Regions from separate parts of the Homo sapiens genome. Here region 1 is linked to region 2. Evidence: fine-mapped expression QTL. Tissue or cell type: unexposed skin. Region 2 holds a variant in brackets; the other region holds the start of a gene. All regions are shown on one strand. Distances are between the middles of the regions.

Region 1 (8,155 bases), 32 kb before region 2:
AATGGAATCTTTCCTTTTGAGCCCTGTTGAACAATTAGGGTACATTCTCTCATTCACTGTAAAATTCAGAGTACAATACATGCAGGCCTTTCAGTGATCAACAGGTATTATTCTGACTTTATAAACAGAAATGTTTAACTGGCCAACGTCTGTGTTGGTCTTACGTTTACCATATATTTGAGGGAAGTCAGGAGAGGACCCCATGTCTTCATACCCTAAGTACTAGAACCTGGGCTCCCAATGCACACAGGATGTAGAGGTGCCACTGAAGAACCTACACTCACACCACAAGGAAAAAGTAGTTAGCATTTAATGAAACTCCCTCCATGTGGCTTCAAGCCACCAGGACACAGGCCCCCCCAACACTCTTAATCTTCTCCTCAGCTCTTCTGCTGAAGAATTTGGCCTTCACGATGACAGGCTGCTTTGGGAGCTTTCCCTTTCCCAGAACTTTGTAGTAGCCCTAGAAGAACAGAGAAAAAAGTTTACAATACACTGTAGTAGGTACCAACTGCGTGATGGGCGTGAGGAAAGACTGCCAACCCACTTTCTAAATCCCTAGGCAGGGTATGTATGTTTCTGATCTGGGCACTAACGGGGGCACCGACTGCCCCCACCAGTGAATCAAGACCAGTAGATTCTCTTCGAGTACTCTAGCACACCAGGACAAGAGTTGTGTCAGGATGTGACTCTAGTCTCGGCAAAGCATAAGCCTCCTCCTGCTCAAATACCCCCTGCTAAGCAAAAGAAGACAACCACCTTCCTGACCACCAGAACTACTCAATGGACATTAAATAGGCTGGGAAGTGAATTTAAAGCGTCCCTAGGGTTCTGGCCTCTTAACACTACCTCTATATTCATGAGAGTTAAGACTGACACAGGGACCAGAACCCCCGCAAGGACAGACATAATACATCTGTTTTGGGGGAAAATCTCTTCAGATAATGCATGGCACTGAGTATCAATGGAACATATTAGGATTCTATTATCTGGAGAACATGAAGGGCCAAGAGCTGTGCTCAGTGAAAACCAGCTATAGTTCAAGCACGAAATGCAAACCTGATACAACCTGGGCAGTGACAGTAGGCACTGCTACGGATAGGGAACTACCTATGATAATTCTACCACAGGAAGAATATCAATGTCTGGTAGGTAACTGGGAAGTACAGATTATATAAGTGGATTAGATTAAGCCAGAGTTTTGTAAGGGAAGGTATGGAAGTACAGAAAAACATCCAATTAACTTACCGATCGCACCACATCAATGATGGGAGCAGCCCCAGTCTTGTTTTTAGCAGCATTCACCCGTGTCTGTTCACTGACCAAAGTCCACAATTTGTCAAGGTTGACAGTTGGGCAGAAGCTCTGGTTCCTCTTTAAGTGGTAATGCTTCATACCAACTTTCCCAAAGTAGCCTGGGTGGCTAGGAAGAGGTAACAACCACCTTCATACACACTCCAATTAAGATGCTATGTTTATCATCTTTATAGTTACCACCCCCTATTAGAGTGTAAATTATTCACTGGTGTAGAGCAGTGTCAGGCATATGATACATCTGTTGACTTAAACAACTGTTTTAAAAACCACCAAAGACTATCATGAGGAAAAGGCTAGTCTTATTTCCTGGAACCAGGATAAACCACCGACAATGTCAGAGGCAGGGCCGAGACTAAAATTCAAGTCACATAACAGCACTCTATGGAAAATCTACATACTCCTATAATAAACGTCTTCTGAATAGCCAAAATTTATCATCCACTAGTTTGTGGGTAGGTGAATGTGAAGCATGTCTCTAACCTGGTGACTGACTGTGCCATAAGGCCCACAGCCAGTGAATAAGGTCAGCAGTTACTCTTCGAGGACTCTAGCACACTCAGGCAATAGCCGATACCCAAGCGTGACTCTAGCCTCGATGACAGGTTCTCAGTTCACACCAAGTGTTAACTTGGTAAAAAACAGCAATAGGCAAGGCTTGCTTCTAAACTTTTTGTTTAAGCCAGCCCTCTCTCTGCCCCTACCTCCCAAGCTGTGTCAATAAAAGCAGTCCAAGGACACTTACTATTTGTCGAAGTTGATCCGGTGGTGATGCAGACCACCAGCATTACCGCGGCCGCCGGGGTGCTTCCGGTGCTTGCCTGCAGGAATACAAAGCTACGTGGGGCCGGTGTGATGGCTCATGCCTGTAATCCCAGCATTTTAGGAGGACGAGGGGGGGTAGATCACCTGAGGTCAGGAGTTCGAGACCAGCCTGGCCAACACGGAGAAACCCCCGACTCTACTAAAAATAGAAAAAGAATTAGCCGGGCGTCGTGGCGCACACCTGTAATATCAGCTACTCGGGAGGCTGAGGCAGGAGAATCGCTTGAGCCCGGCAGGCAGGGGTTGCAGTGAGCCGAGATTTCGCCACTGCACTCCAGCCTGGGCGACAGTGATCAGTCTCACACACACACAAAAAAGCTACATGCACCACACAGCCTTCTCATGCATCTCAATACTTCCTCGCACAAAAGCAGAGTGTTTCCCAGACTTCTGTGTCCCGCTTACGCTGTTCCCACCCTACCGATGCCGGTTTTCAGCAATGCGATTACTTTAGGATTCCGGGTGAAACATCTTTTCAGGTTCCACATCACAGCATTCCCACAGTACTCCATGTCTTCAACTAACCCAATACCGTGCCTGCTCAATTCCTATTACCCCACTGATGTGAAATTCCTTAGAACTGGAATACTAGAGGATCGTCAGAAAAAAATCAACAGCTGTGCAACTTGACCACAAAAAGGTCTTATTCTAACCCACTTATAGGCTACCGATCTCCAGACTAGCTAAGCACCCGAAGAGAGCCCAAGGCCCACCCCGAGGGGAAGCCGGCACTTACCTATGCGGCCGTGGCCGTGGCTCACGTGGCCCCTAAGTTTCCGGGTCTTCCTCAGTCTGGATGGCTGTGTGGAAAAAGCTTGGTGGTAAGGCCTAAGGAATTAGGGGCAGGGGGCGATGCCCGCCAGCCGAGATGGTCCTGTAAGCCTGTGGGTCAAAGACCTAACTTCTGGAGCGTTTGGGAAAGCTGAGGGTACCGATCCGCTCAGGGCCGTGAGGTCTCACCACGGTAGCGCAGGGGCCCGCGTGTCCTAGAGATCCGAACCGCGGGCCTAACACACGGCTCCGGGAGCCCCGCCCCGGGCCCGCGCCGGCCACCCTGCCCCGCAGGCGGCCATGCGCAGCCTGGAAGCCCCGACCATGGTAGGGAGTGGATGACTAGGGGCAATGGGAATACAGCTTAGGGGTCTCCGCCGGCAAGGAAGAGGAGGCAAGAAACGAAACACCTACCATGTTGGCAGCCCAGACGAAAAAGGAAGGCCTTCGCCAAGTCTCGCGAGGTATCGGCCACGGGGGCGGGGCAAAACGCCTCACTTCCGGTCACAGAGGCCGGGCTTCGGGCGGGGCCTCCTGGTCTCGCGGGATTGCGCGCCTGCTAGTCGCTTCCTCTTTCTGAGGGTGGTGATCCCCCATCACGGAGTGTCCTGGTGGCGGTGTACGGTTTCGGTGAGGCTCGTTGTGCTAGGCTCGGAGGGCGAGAACTGTTGAAGAATCGGGGCTAGGTGTGCTGTACTGCACGCCGCCCGTGCTTGCTTGAGCCAGGCCCTTTTCTGGCGCCTTGGTCAGGGAACCGCCTAAGCCGACCCTAAGGGCCTCGTTGTCTGAGCTCCTCACCAAATGCGCCAGCCCTGAGCCGCCCCGCGCACCTCCACAGTTCTTAGTGGTCTGCCCGGGGCTGGTGATAGTGGCTACTGGTTTGTCTCCCGGCCGCAGTGCGGAACCGCGAGGCCCTCTTTAATCCTCAGTGTGCCCACCTGGTGTCTCGCTCGGTTTCCTGAAGCTCGGGCGGCTCCCGAAATGCCTTCTCCCGCTCTCACACTTCTGAGTGGGCACTGCAGCTTCCTTTCTCTTTTGCCCTTTTGCTATCATTTGGTTGTCCTCTCAAGTTTGAGCAACTTAAATTGCTTCAGGGACTTAGATGCCTGGTTGCTTTATGGTCCTTTTAATGCAGATGTTGTAAATACTTTTTCTAAATGCCACATTTAGGCCAGGCGCGGTGGCTCACACCTGTAGTCCCAACACTTTGGGAGGTCGAGGCGGGAGGATTTCTTGAGGCGAGTAGTTCAACACCAGCCTGGGCAACATAGTGAGACCCTCGTCTCCACATACAAAAGTAAATAAGTAAAAATAAATGCTATTTTTGAATTTTCTCCAGAATCTACATAACACGCCTGTGACCCTTTCCTGGACACAATGCAGACAGTTGCTCGCTTCCCCACCTGTACCACCACACAATCTAGTATAACCCTTATGTAATTTATTGACCTACGTTTGTCTTCCCTACTAGACCTAATTCCTTATGTGGTCAAGGACTGTTTTTTTTAATCCACACTCAACTAGTGATTGTTGAGTGAATAAATGAACTTACCCTCACCTCCCTGTCTTCGCTAATAGCAGCATGTCTTCGCTCTTAAGTCGGTTCCTTCAACCAGTGTTCAAGATCCCATCCCCTCGCTAGTCTATTAATAGATCCCATGGGAAAAATGAAATAAATTTTTAAAATCCCATCCCCTCAGTTATTCTCTGTGTGTATGTGTGAGCGTGTATTTATTTATTTTTCTTTGTCTTGCCCCCTTCAGCTAAAATATATTTTAGCTAAAATATCCAAAATTCTGGCCGGGCGTGGTGGCTTACTTCTGTAATCCCAGCACTTTGGAAGGCCGAGGCGGGCGGATCACGAGGTCAGGAGATCGAGACCATCCTGGCTAACACGGTGAAACCCCGTCTCTACTAAAAATACAAAAAATTAGATGGGCGTGGTGGTGGGCGCCTGTAGTCCCAGCTACTCGGGAGGCTGAGGCAGGAGAATGGCGTGAACCCGGGAGGCGGAGCTTGTAGTGAACCGAGATCGCGCCACTGCACTGCAGCCTGGGCGACAGAACGAGACTCCGTCTCAAAAAAAAAAAAAAAAATTCCAAAATTCTCCCATGTCCTTGCCCTTACAGCCAAGCTCCCCAAAAGAGTAGTCTACAAATCCTGCCCATTTGCACCTTCCCATCCATTGTTCACTGCGGTCTAGCTCACAGCCTGTGACTTCAGTGAAATTGCTCTTACTAATGTCATTAATGAACGAATTGCCAAATTGGACTCTTCCTATTCTTCATATCACTTGTTCTTTCTGTTGTACTTTAATCTGTTGGCGTCTTTTTCTAGAAAAAGTCTTGCCTTCCTCCTACTCTTTGGTCACTTTTCAGTCTTCTTTTCAGGTTCTTCCATCCAGCGTTGTCCACCATTTGAATGTTGATGTTCCTCAGCCTTCTGTCCTTGTCCTTATCTTTTCACAGTACATGGTCTTCTTGGGTGGCTTCAATTCACATCCTTATTGCTGAGCTCCACACCCATATGGTCACTTAATTACTGGTTAGTATTCCTTGGACATTCTACAGACAAAGTAAACATATCCAAAGAACTCAATCTGCACTGCTCACTGGTGCCTTCTCCTTTATTCTCTGTCTTGGTGAGTGGCACCATTGTCCACCTAGATAATGAAAATTGTCCCCAAGCCTTCTCTTCTTCTACTACACTGTCACCCTATCCTTTTGTTTCTGTATCTCCCCAATGTGCTTCCTCTGTTTAAGCCTTAGTGCCCTGCCTTCATTCAGGCCCCCATCATATCTCTTAACTGGAGTTTACAACACCTTCCTTTGTTCACTCTGCCTGCATTCTAACCCTCCTCCAATTTCTGTATCCTTCACACCTCCACCACGTTAGTATTCCGAAAACATGACTTTCATTCTTTTACTTGATCAAAAAGTTCGGTAGCTCCTTATGACCAACAGAATATAGCCCACTTGCCTTTCCAGCCTTACCCCAGCCTCTCCCTTACACAAGCTTTCTACTGCAGCCGTGCCTGGTATATCCCATTTGCATTTTTGCCTTTGCTCATGCTGTTTCCCATCCCGGAGTGCCCATCCTCTTCCTGACCACATGTCCTGAATCTTCCTCAACCTTTAAGGCCAACTTTATATTCTGCTTCTTCCCAGAACACTTCAGTCCACAAGGATAACAACCAACATTTTCAGAGCACTTGGCAATTTACAAAATACATCTGCCTGAAGGTACAGCACTACCAGCCTCATTTTACGTGTGTGAAAACTGAAGCACAGAAGAATTGGGTGACTTGTCAGACGCTGCATAGGTGGTCAGGTACAGAGCCTGGGCCTAGCCTTTAGTCTTCTCTCTCCAGATCCCCTGCTTTTACCTCAGTGACCAGTCCCTCTCTGACCTTACAGCATTATGGTCTTCATCCCTCCATCAACCTTAATCACATACTGCATGTGACCAGCAGGAAGAGGGGTCTTGAGAATAGGAGGGGAGATCAAAGAAGACATCGTCGTCTATTTGACATCAAAACTGGCCAGTAAGTGCACAAGAAATGAGCTGGGTTACCTGGAACCTAACCTTGGGAAGATGATCTGTCAATGGAGGTAAGCTGGGCAGGGCCTTGGGAATGAAAGGGAACCATCAGTGGTATTAGAGCTGGGGCCTACAATAAGGACCACCACTGCAAGGGGTTGAGGTAGGGTTCTGGGTGCTAAGACACTCCTCTTGGATAGTTTGCCAGGTTCCTTGGTTATAGAGGAGCTACGTTCTGTCCCTCAGGTCACGCGGCTGAACAGAAGGCCTCCCAGAGTGGACCCAGCACTACCCGTTGGGTTCTGTGTTCACCTAACATTCTTCTCATCAATGGCTTGATCTGGTTGTAGAGGGAGTACCCTGGGTAGTTGTCTGGCTCAATCCAGTTTTCTATCCAGCTCCCTCTCCTTCAAAAGGCAACCACATGACTTAAACACACAGCTCATGTGGTGTTTGTTCAGTGTGTGTCACTTTTCCTAGGTTGACAGAGGTCTGAGAGAGCAGACAAAGCTGAGTTTTCTGTCTGCAAAGTGGAGTAGCAGCCAGATATTTGGCATTAGGGGACCTGTCCCTCCCAGCTAGGCACATGGGACATGACCTTTGGCCATGACTCCTGAGGGGTGTCCTTCTCTGTGACATCTCTTCTGAAGTACAGCATGGCTTTGTGACATCTCAGGCATCTGGGCTTCCTCAGAGTGTGAGGGCCTCAGAAAATACCTCAGAAATGAACGGAAGAGATGATACCAGACAGCAGCCTGGTGAGGCAGGCAAGTGTGCTGATTTTTTGCTGCCCCAGGCCTCTCTCCAGGTGGCCTTGGGAACACATCATCACCCTGAAGAAGGCCCTGGTGATCCCTCTTCCTTTCTCTCCTCACTGGGTTCCTGAATTCGACATCAGTCCTTCAGATAGCAGCAACATCCTGAATGAATCCAGCTCTGTTTTCTTGCTCTCCATCTTTAGATGTGGACATTTGGAAATATGTTCGTTTTCTTTTTTAAGTAGAGCACTGTTAATCAAGATGGGAAGAAGCAGTGTTTCTGCTTTTTTTCCAAGTGAGAATTAGAGAAAAGCTCAGAAATCCCAATTTACTTCAGAAAGACTTGAAAAATTATACGTAATAGACAGTACAACAGTAAAGAAAATTCTGAAAAAAATATAAGTATAAGCAACTCAAATCATTCCACCCTGTGATGCCATTTTCTTTTCTGAGTATTACCTTTCAACCCTTGTATACATGGAGACATAGCTGTCTGCAAAGTTAGTGATCATAGTATACAAATCCTTTTGTATTCTTTTTATTTAATACCATGGCAGTTTTTCGTATCACTACCCAGTCTTCATGATTATTTTTAACAGCTGAAGAATAATTTATTTTCAGCATGTGCTATCTTTTATTAAGCCACTTTCTTGTGTATTTTGTTTTTTTAAAAAATTCTTATTGTATTCTTTGCTGTTAGAGACAATGATGGAATGAGCATTTGTATATAATTTTTTCTTCTCCTGTTGAATAACTTGTCTAGGATAAATTCCCAGAAGTGAGACTGCTGGATTATATGGTATGAACATTTTTGTGATTCATTTTATGTTACTATGTATTTTTTCCAAAAGGATCGTACCAATTTATTCACCAGCAATATGTACAGTTTCCAGTTTCATTTTAACCTCCCTAGCCTTGGGGGTTTTTGTTTGCCTTTATCGGTAGTT
Region 2 (8,197 bases):
AGGTAATATCCTTTAATACCAACTGTGGTTTATTTTTGTGTGCAGACATATGAACAGGTATTTAAAATGCAATGTGATATTCGTTGTACTGGAAGGATGTTCAGGGTGCTGCGGGAACCCAGAAGAGGGACTAATTAACTCATCCCGGGGGAAATTGATCTTGCTGCTCAAAGGTGGAACATTTGAACAGGTATGAAAGGATGAATAGGAGTTTATCTGAAAAGGAGAGGGGCAAGAAAGAGTATTTCAGGAAGAGGAAACAGCATTTTTCACAGACACAGAGTCATGCAAAAGTCTGGTGTATTCAAGAGATAGCAGAGATGTTGGGCATGGCAAAAACACAGGTTGTATGTTAGGCAAAGCTAAAGATGAGATTAGAGAGAGATAAGGTCAATTTACAAGGGGCATTGAATGCCAAGCTGAGGACTTTGGCTTTAAGGCCAAGGGAGCAGAGGATGTGTGATGAGGCCTTGTTTGACCTATTCAGTTCTTTCTCTTTTTTCATTCTGCTCGTGAGGCCATGTTACAATGACTGATGTTTGGGCATCTGGTACCCGGGATGTCTTGTGGAAGTCGTTTTCAACAATTAGAGCAGCATTTCTGTCCTGCTGTAGATGAGGAGGTCACCTCAGGGTGAGCCAAGTGGAAGAGAGGGACAGTAGCCTTATTCCCCTGGATGATGTCACCTGTGGAGAGCATCCTTCTCCACCTCTGGCCATTGTTCTTGACAGGCAGGAGAATATGCAGGACATTCCAGATACAGTCCTGTCATTAACACCCATGGCTCTGCAAAAACTCAGAAAGTTTTTCTTTTCTTTTCTTTTCTTTTTTTTTTTGGTGGGGTGAGGGAGTATTAAACTATTATTTTTCATGATTTTGTGGATTTCTATTTTCCTGGGATGTATCAGTTAGCTTTTACTGCATAACAAGCCACCTCTAAACTTTGTGCTTAAAACAACTAAACTTTATTTATTTTATGATTCTACAGTTTGGCTGTTTGGGCTGGGATTCTCTGGGTAATTCTTCTGGTTTGGCCTGGGCTTAGCTAATTATAACTGTGTTCACTCTTGCACTGTATTCAGCTAGTGGGTTAGTTGGGGCTGGCTGGTCTATGATGGCCTCAGGTGGGATGCCTGAGACAACTGAGAACTTTCTCTGCATGATCTCTCATCTTCCAGCAGTCTCAATGCCAGGTTAGATTTTTCACATGGCACTCTTAAAGTTCTAAGAACAAGAGCAGAATTATATAAGGCCACTGAGGTCTAGGCTTGGAAAACTTGTCACTTTTGCTGCATTCTGTTGGCCAAAGAAAGTCACAAGGTGAGCTTAGATTCAAAGGGCAAAGGGTCCTACCTCTTTTAAAAATTAAAAACTCATCACTGACCTGAAGCTCGTGGAGAGTCTTACCTTTTGATGGTAGGATTGCAAGGGTATGGATGCAGGGAGGGGAAGAATTTGTGGCCATTTTTTGAATCTACCACTCAAACTAACTTTCGTCACCAGAGAGTTGGTAATTGAGTTTATTGCATTACTGTGAATAGGATATGAGGAATCTTTTGAACTCCAAAGTTGACATTCATGGAGGACCATGTGATTTCTGAAGTCTTATCTAATTTAATGTGCACAGCAACTCTTATTTTCCCTATTTTACATATGAAGAAACTGGGGTACAGGGCAATTAAGTGAGATTAAGTGTTTTGCCCAAGGTCATTGGCTGGTAGGCCTGGTATTTTGGACTTACATTTGTCTGACTATAAGTCTGGAGCAACTGCCATCATATCATTCTTTCGTATTTTGAAGAGATGAGACAGAGGAGATTGTAGCGGTACTGCTGCATTCACTGCCATAGCCAACCCCTTTCCAGATCACCCTCATCCCTGGACACAGGTACCTTGCCCTACTCCAGAGGCTCATTTTCTTGTTCCTAGTAGGTTGACTGCCCTTGCGGTGGGCCGGCAGAATCACTGTGGTCTCCAGGGTGGGAGTCTTCTGCTGCTTTTATAGTCCAGAAGCCCACTATGCTGAAGAATATGTTAGAGACTGATGTATTTCTCTGGGGAGAGATTGTAGGTCAAGCTGTTCATAGGTAAAATATACATATATATGATGCATCTAACTTGGTCTATGGGGAGAGAGCCCTCCAAAAGACCTCTGAGCCTCAGAGGCAGACTGACTGGTATATGCTGTACTAAGAGAAAAATACCTCCTAGATGAGCGGGCAGGGAGGCCTTGCCTTTCTCTGACTAAAGCCTTCTGGAGGCTTTAGCTTCGAGATCTTCCAAGTCATCCTGCTATGTGGTAACCTTAATGACCTGGAACTGTGCCCAGACTAAACTGACTCTGGATCTTGGCTAGTGATGGGAGCTGTGCTCTCAGGGATGTGGAATGAGGAATGGGAGCAGCAAGAAGGCACCTGATTGTCAGAACCAAAGCAGCGTTGGGCCTGTAGTAGCATGGTTTATGGGGCAGGGAGGAAGGTAGGACCAGGTAAAGACAAGAATGTGAGGAGACCAGATGGTCTGTAGGGAAGGCCCCAATGGGATGGTCATGTTCAGGGTACCCACATACTAAATGCAGGCTATGGCATCAAGTGTAGTTCATTTTGGCACACATGGGTATTGCCATGTATCTTGGTGTTGTGTATTAGAAAGCCTTATGTCCAGGCCTTAGTTATAATCAGCCATGTTGCCCTGACTCTGCTATCTTTCTTTCTTGCACAGAGCTCATCTCCTGTCCTGGGTGTGAACGAGTATATCTTACCAGGGATGTAACTGAACATTTTTTTCTGCATTGTGTTCCTACTGAGCAACCCAAGATGGCCAGGGTAAGTCAGGACAAGGAAAGAAGCAGCTGATCTTTTTCAGAAATCTGTGAGGCCCCTGTCCATAAGTCTTCTATCCATCCATCACTCTATCATCTGATTTGTTACTTCTCCATCAGTTTTCCTAATCATCCATCCATCCATCTAGAAGAAAATAAAAATGCATGAGTTGGGGGAAACAATGAGGGGGTTTTCTATTAAGTGAAAATTATTGACTTTTTTTTGTGTCAATCCCTTTAGCAGAAGGTGAATGTAAGTTAAGATATATTAAGAGTTGCTTACTGTCTATATAATTATTTTTCTCTCTCTTACAGCTCTTGCTGAAAAATACCAGTACTGGGCTTTTGTTTTATTTTTTTAATCATCCTGAGTTGAAATTCATGTACCAGCCTGGATTAAATGGGTTTATTAACCTTGCCTGTATTTAACAACTATCACCTTTTTCCTGAGTTTCTTAAGGAAATTTTTATCACTTATTGGCCGGCAGCCCTTCTGTTCCTCTTTCCACTAGGGTAAATTAGTAAATTAGTAATTTACTAATTTACTTACTTGTTCCTGTATCTGATTTGTGTTGAATGTCTCACATGTGCCAGACCCTGTGCTGGATATTAGGGAGATCGACCCATATACTCTACATTCAAGGAATTCATAGTTTAATTAGTAGAACTTTCAGAATTCACATCAGTTTGGTGGCCTCTGTGATTCAGACACAGATAGGCCAACTTTTCCAAATCTCCCCTTCTCTTGATGTTTTATAATAGCCCGGGCAAGATATTTGCTTACGAAATGAATGAACATTTGGACTAGGAGAGGCCTAGGTACCCTCAGATCAGGCAGAGCCCAGGTGTGGGAGCACAACTCTGAACGCTGGTCTATACTTGCCCTTCCTTGGTTGCATTTGACCATCTTGCTGTGTACTCCCATATGTGGGCTTTCTCCTCTCTGAAGCACATTGAATTTCCTGCTTTTGCCAGTGCTTTCCCTCTGTTACAACATTTTCCTCCCTTATCTGCCTGGTGAACCTACTTGTCATTCAGTATCCAGCTCAAGTGTTTCCTTTTTGTAAAACCTTTCCTAGCCACTCCTAGACTGAGTTCCAGGAAGGCTTCCTTTGCTTCCTTAGCATGTGTTGCATCCTTTTAATTACAGCATTACTCAGTTAATGTGTACCATCCTGTGTGCTGTGGATAGCATGAGATCAGATCCTTGGCTTACGCATCTGGGTGTCCTTAGCTTCAGCACAGGACTTGTGTGAACAGCCCCTGAGACAGCTGCTGCTGCTGCTCCTCCTCCTCCTCCCTCCCTCCCTCCCTCCTTCCCTTCCTCCTTCCCTTCCTCCTTTTCCTTCTGCTCCTTCCCCTCCTCCTCTCCTCCTCTTCCTCCTCCTCCTTCTTCTTCCTTCTCCTTTGCCTTCTTCCTCATCCTTTTTTGAGACAGGGTCTTCCTCTGTTGCCCAGGCTGGAGTGTAGTGGTACGATCTTGGCTCACTGCAGCCTTGACCTCCTGAGCTCAAGCGATCTTCCCACCTCAGTCTCCCTAGTAGCTGGGACTACAGGCATGTGCCACCACTCCCGGCTAATTTTTGTATTTTTTGTAGAGATGGGGTCTCACTATGTTGCCCAGGCTAGTCTGAAACTCCTGGGCTCAAGCACTCCTCCTGCCTTGGCCTCCCAAAGTACTGGGGTTACAGGTGTGAGCCACCATACCTGAAGTAGCCACTGTTCTTTTGGTTACAAAGGATGCTTCCTTCCACAAGCCCCGGCATGTTACTCCCAGACAGCTCTGCAGAATAGGTTACACTCCAAACTGGTGGAGGAATAGGCCTGCAGGACCCCTGTCTTTAGAGCATTTACCACTTGTGGAGGCAGACACAAATGAGGATAACATCAGTAACTCCAGAACTCTCTGCTTCCAGAACTGCTCTGAGTGCAAGGAGAAGAGGGCAGCACATATCCTCTGCACCTACTGCAATCGCTGGCT[G/A]TGCAGCTCTTGCACAGAGGAACACCGACACAGCCCTGTCCCCGGGGGCCCATTCTTTCCTCGGGCCCAGAAGGGATCTCCAGGTACCAATCCCACCTCTCCCTGCCCACTCCCATGCCCTAAAGCAGGGCTGAACCCTAAGATCCCTGGAGAATAGCTCTCCGATCTTGTTTTCTTGCTGGGGGAGAAGGTAGGGACAGTCTCAGAGCCTTTCCCAAAGGAAGTCTCCTTCAGAGTCAAAGGGGTGACTCACTCTCGTCCCTCCCTGTTGATGGTGGGGGTGGATGAGTGTGGATGAAATGGTATAGAGAGGAAAGTGTTGAATTATTGTGGAAGCTGGCTGAGCTCCCTGCCTTTCCCCTCTAGAGTAATCATGTTACCCTTCTAATTTATTTACTTGATTAACTTAGTCTGGATTAGGGCTTGTTTGTTTGTCTACCCAGCACCATCTGTTTTATTTTTATTTTTATTTTTATTTTTTTTTGAGATGGAGTCTCACTCTGTCACCCAGGCTGGGGTGCGGTGGCATGATCTCGGCTCACTACAACCTCCACCTCCTGGGTTCAAGCGATTCTCCTGCTTCAGCCTCCCAAGTAGCTGGGATTACAGGCATGCGCCACCGCGCCCAGCTAATGTTTGTAGTTTTAGTAGAGATGGGGTTTCGCCATGTTGGCCAGGCTGGTCTTGAACCCCTGACCTCAGGTGATCCGCCCACCTTGGCCTCCCAAAGTGCTGCGATTACAGGCGTGAGCCACTGCGCCCAGCCACCATCTGTTTTAAATGACAATCTTCTTGAAAGTCTTTTCTCAAGGCCCTTGAATTGTGGGAGGGGTTCTACAACTGTCAAATCCACAGGAACCAGAGTTCATGATCCACGTGATCTAGCCTGGAGCCTGGCAAGGCTGGATAGCTGGTTTCAGCTCCATTAAAAACAGAATCCTGATTAATGAACAGGTTAAGGTTAATTGTGAAGGATTCATTATTTTGCAGGAGATCTATGTGGAGTAGTAGCAAGCGCCTTCCTCAGCCTCTGGCAGGTAGTGGGATGCTTGGGCTTGATGGTGTGCTATTTCTGGACAACTGGGCAAATCCAGCCAAGCTCAGCCCAAAATCCTCCTTGTGCCCCTGGAGAGTCATCTCCTGTTTATAACACTTCCCCCGAGCTCTGTATTTCTGCAGTGTCCTCTGAAGGCTGAGAGCTGTGCAGCAAAGCTTAACTGAGAGGTTTGTCTACCTGAGCAAGAGAAGCTCACTTTCTCTGTCTTCTCTGGCAGGAGTGAATGGTGGTCCCGGAGACTTCACCTTGTATTGTCCTCTACACACACAGGAAGTACTCAAGCTATTCTGTGAGACATGTGATATGCTCACTTGCCATAGCTGCCTAGTGGTGGAACACAAAGAACACAGGTGGGGCTGACAGACTGCCTGAAATGGGCTGGGGAGGGCTCTGGATTTCTTACTTGTGAGAGCTCTGGGAATCCCCGTGCATCAGAATCTTCTCCCTGCCCAAGCCAACCTGCAGCCCCTGGGCTGAAGTTTTTCTCTGCTCCTGTTGTAGGACTTCCCTGGAAAAGGCCTAATGGGCCAAGAGCCTGTGGTGCCTTAGACTTTCCCTAGAAGTCATCACAGCTTCCATGGGTCTGGCTGAGACAGTTCCCTGTGGAGATTCCCGCTTGGTTGGCATGCTCAAAGTAGGACTCAGCCCTTCTCAGCTTTTTCTCTGCCTCATCCCCTAGGTGCAGACATGTTGAAGAAGTTTTGCAAAACCAGAGGATGCTTCTGGAAGGTGTGACTACACAGGTGGCACATAAGAAATCCAGTCTACAGACATCTGCAAAGCAAATTGAGGACAGGTAGCACAGGCTAGTGCCTTGCCAGTGCTGGAAATGCTCTGTTCCCGCACACCCAGGGTTCCAACACCAGGCCGTCAGATGTAGTGCCTGTGAAGAGGAACTGTGGTTAAGCAGATGTGGGCATATGTCCTAGAAGGCATATGTCTTGGCCTTTGAGGTCTCAGGGCCAGGGAGGGGTCATTAAGTCATCCCTTGGTGGCTGAGACCAAGCTAGGTCAGGATGATCAGAGTGAGTCTGGGTCAAAGAATATGCCTTATGAACTAGCCAGAAGTCGGTGCTTGAGAACAAGGGTACCAAGCAGACACTAGGGAAGAGAGTGCTGCTTATTATGAGGGTGGAACAAACCAGGGGCAATCTGTGCTTTATCACCCCTTTCCCTGTGTGTTCTCTGTAAATCTACAAGTCACATGAAATCATTGGTATTTTACATAGGAAGAGGAAGTGGTAGGTGCTGAGAGCACCTCATGTGTCAGGCACTGGGTTGGGTATCATATATGCATTATTTTGTTCAGTTCTTGCCATTCTTTCAGTTAGCGATTTTCTCCATTTTACTGATGAGGAGACTGAGGTTCATAGAGGTTTGGTAACTCATCTGAGATCACACAACTAGCCAGTGACTGTGCTGGGTTTAGATGGTAGGTCTGTGGTGACTTCAATGCCCATGCTTTTTAAATTTTTAAAAATAGCTTTACTGAGATATAATCTACGTATCATAAAATTATTCTTTTTAAATGTATAATTCAGTGGCCTTTAGTATATTCACAGAATTGTGCAACTGTACATAATTACTGTCTACGTTTAAAACATTTTCATCCCCCCAAAAAGAAGCCACATTAATATAAACATTATTATATGTTTATAATAAACATTATATTATATGTTTATTGTTTATTATATAATTATATGTTTATTATTGTTTATTATATAATATGTTTATTATATAATATGTTATTATGCCAATAATATAAACATTATTAGTCACTCTCCATTCCCCCAACACCCCCCGGCCCTCAGAAACTACTGAGGCAGTATGCATTCTGCCTCTTTTTACCTCATGGCGACATTTATTGGAGCATCCTCCTTTTAAACACAACAAATTACAGTAAATTATTCCCATACTTTCTCTTTTGGTCCTACCTCTAGTGCTGTGTCAACTGGTGGGCTACTGGGTTGACCTTGGTGTAGACTTGAGGTTTACCTAGAGAAAACCAAGCTGAACTTTGATCAAGTGGGGCTTTGTACAAAAGGTGGGATGGTGGAGGAAGGCTCTCTTTTTTTTGTATTTGGTGTCTGCTAGGCCCTGATCTCAGTAGGCAGCCTCCAAGTTGGTTCTTATGTTTGCTGTCTCTTCGTCTTCATATAGTCCATGAGGAAAGCTTACCATGGTTTGTCCCATTGTGTTTACAGGATTTTTGAAGTGAAGCATCAGCATAGGAAGGTGGAAAACCAGATCAAAATGGCCAAGATGGTTCTGATGAATGAGCTGAACAAACAGGCCAATGGGCTAATAGAGGAATTAGAGGTATGTATAGACAGATGGAT

The links. PIP is the estimated chance that this variant, and not a neighbour inherited with it, causes the effect.
Region 1: TRIM66 starts here. The variant in region 2 is fine-mapped to the expression of TRIM66 in unexposed skin (GTEx, PIP 0.91).

Annotation. Positions count from the first base shown.
Region 1 is chr11:8,677,986-8,686,140 of GRCh38, reverse strand. It overlaps TRIM66 (tripartite motif containing 66), which reads left to right and starts at 3,476. Exons shown (of 25, transcript NM_001388022.1): 1 at 3,476-3,540; 2 at 6,078-6,240; 3 at 6,327-6,521. It overlaps RPL27A (ribosomal protein L27a), which reads right to left and starts at 3,349. Exons shown (of 5, transcript NM_000990.5): 1 at 3,325-3,349; 2 at 2,876-2,939; 3 at 2,060-2,135; 4 at 1,249-1,423; 5 at 1-463. The coding sequence starts at 3,327. The coding sequence ends at 335. SNORA3A (small nucleolar RNA, H/ACA box 3A) reads right to left here and starts at 1,914; the gene lies at 1,785-1,914. SNORA3B (small nucleolar RNA, H/ACA box 3B) reads right to left here and starts at 702; the gene lies at 572-702. RefSeq lists enhancers at 2,428-3,070, 3,397-3,586, 3,787-3,856, 2,720-3,919 and a silencer at 3,077-3,276.
Region 2 is chr11:8,646,427-8,654,623 of GRCh38, reverse strand. It overlaps TRIM66 (tripartite motif containing 66), which reads left to right. Exons shown (of 25, transcript NM_001388022.1): 7 at 2,721-2,824; 8 at 4,737-4,884; 9 at 6,076-6,208; 10 at 6,538-6,654; 11 at 8,063-8,177. Among named protein-coding and RNA genes, the nearest start is that of TRIM66, 32 kb to the left of the region's middle. The variant G/A (reference allele first, on the strand shown) is at 4,802.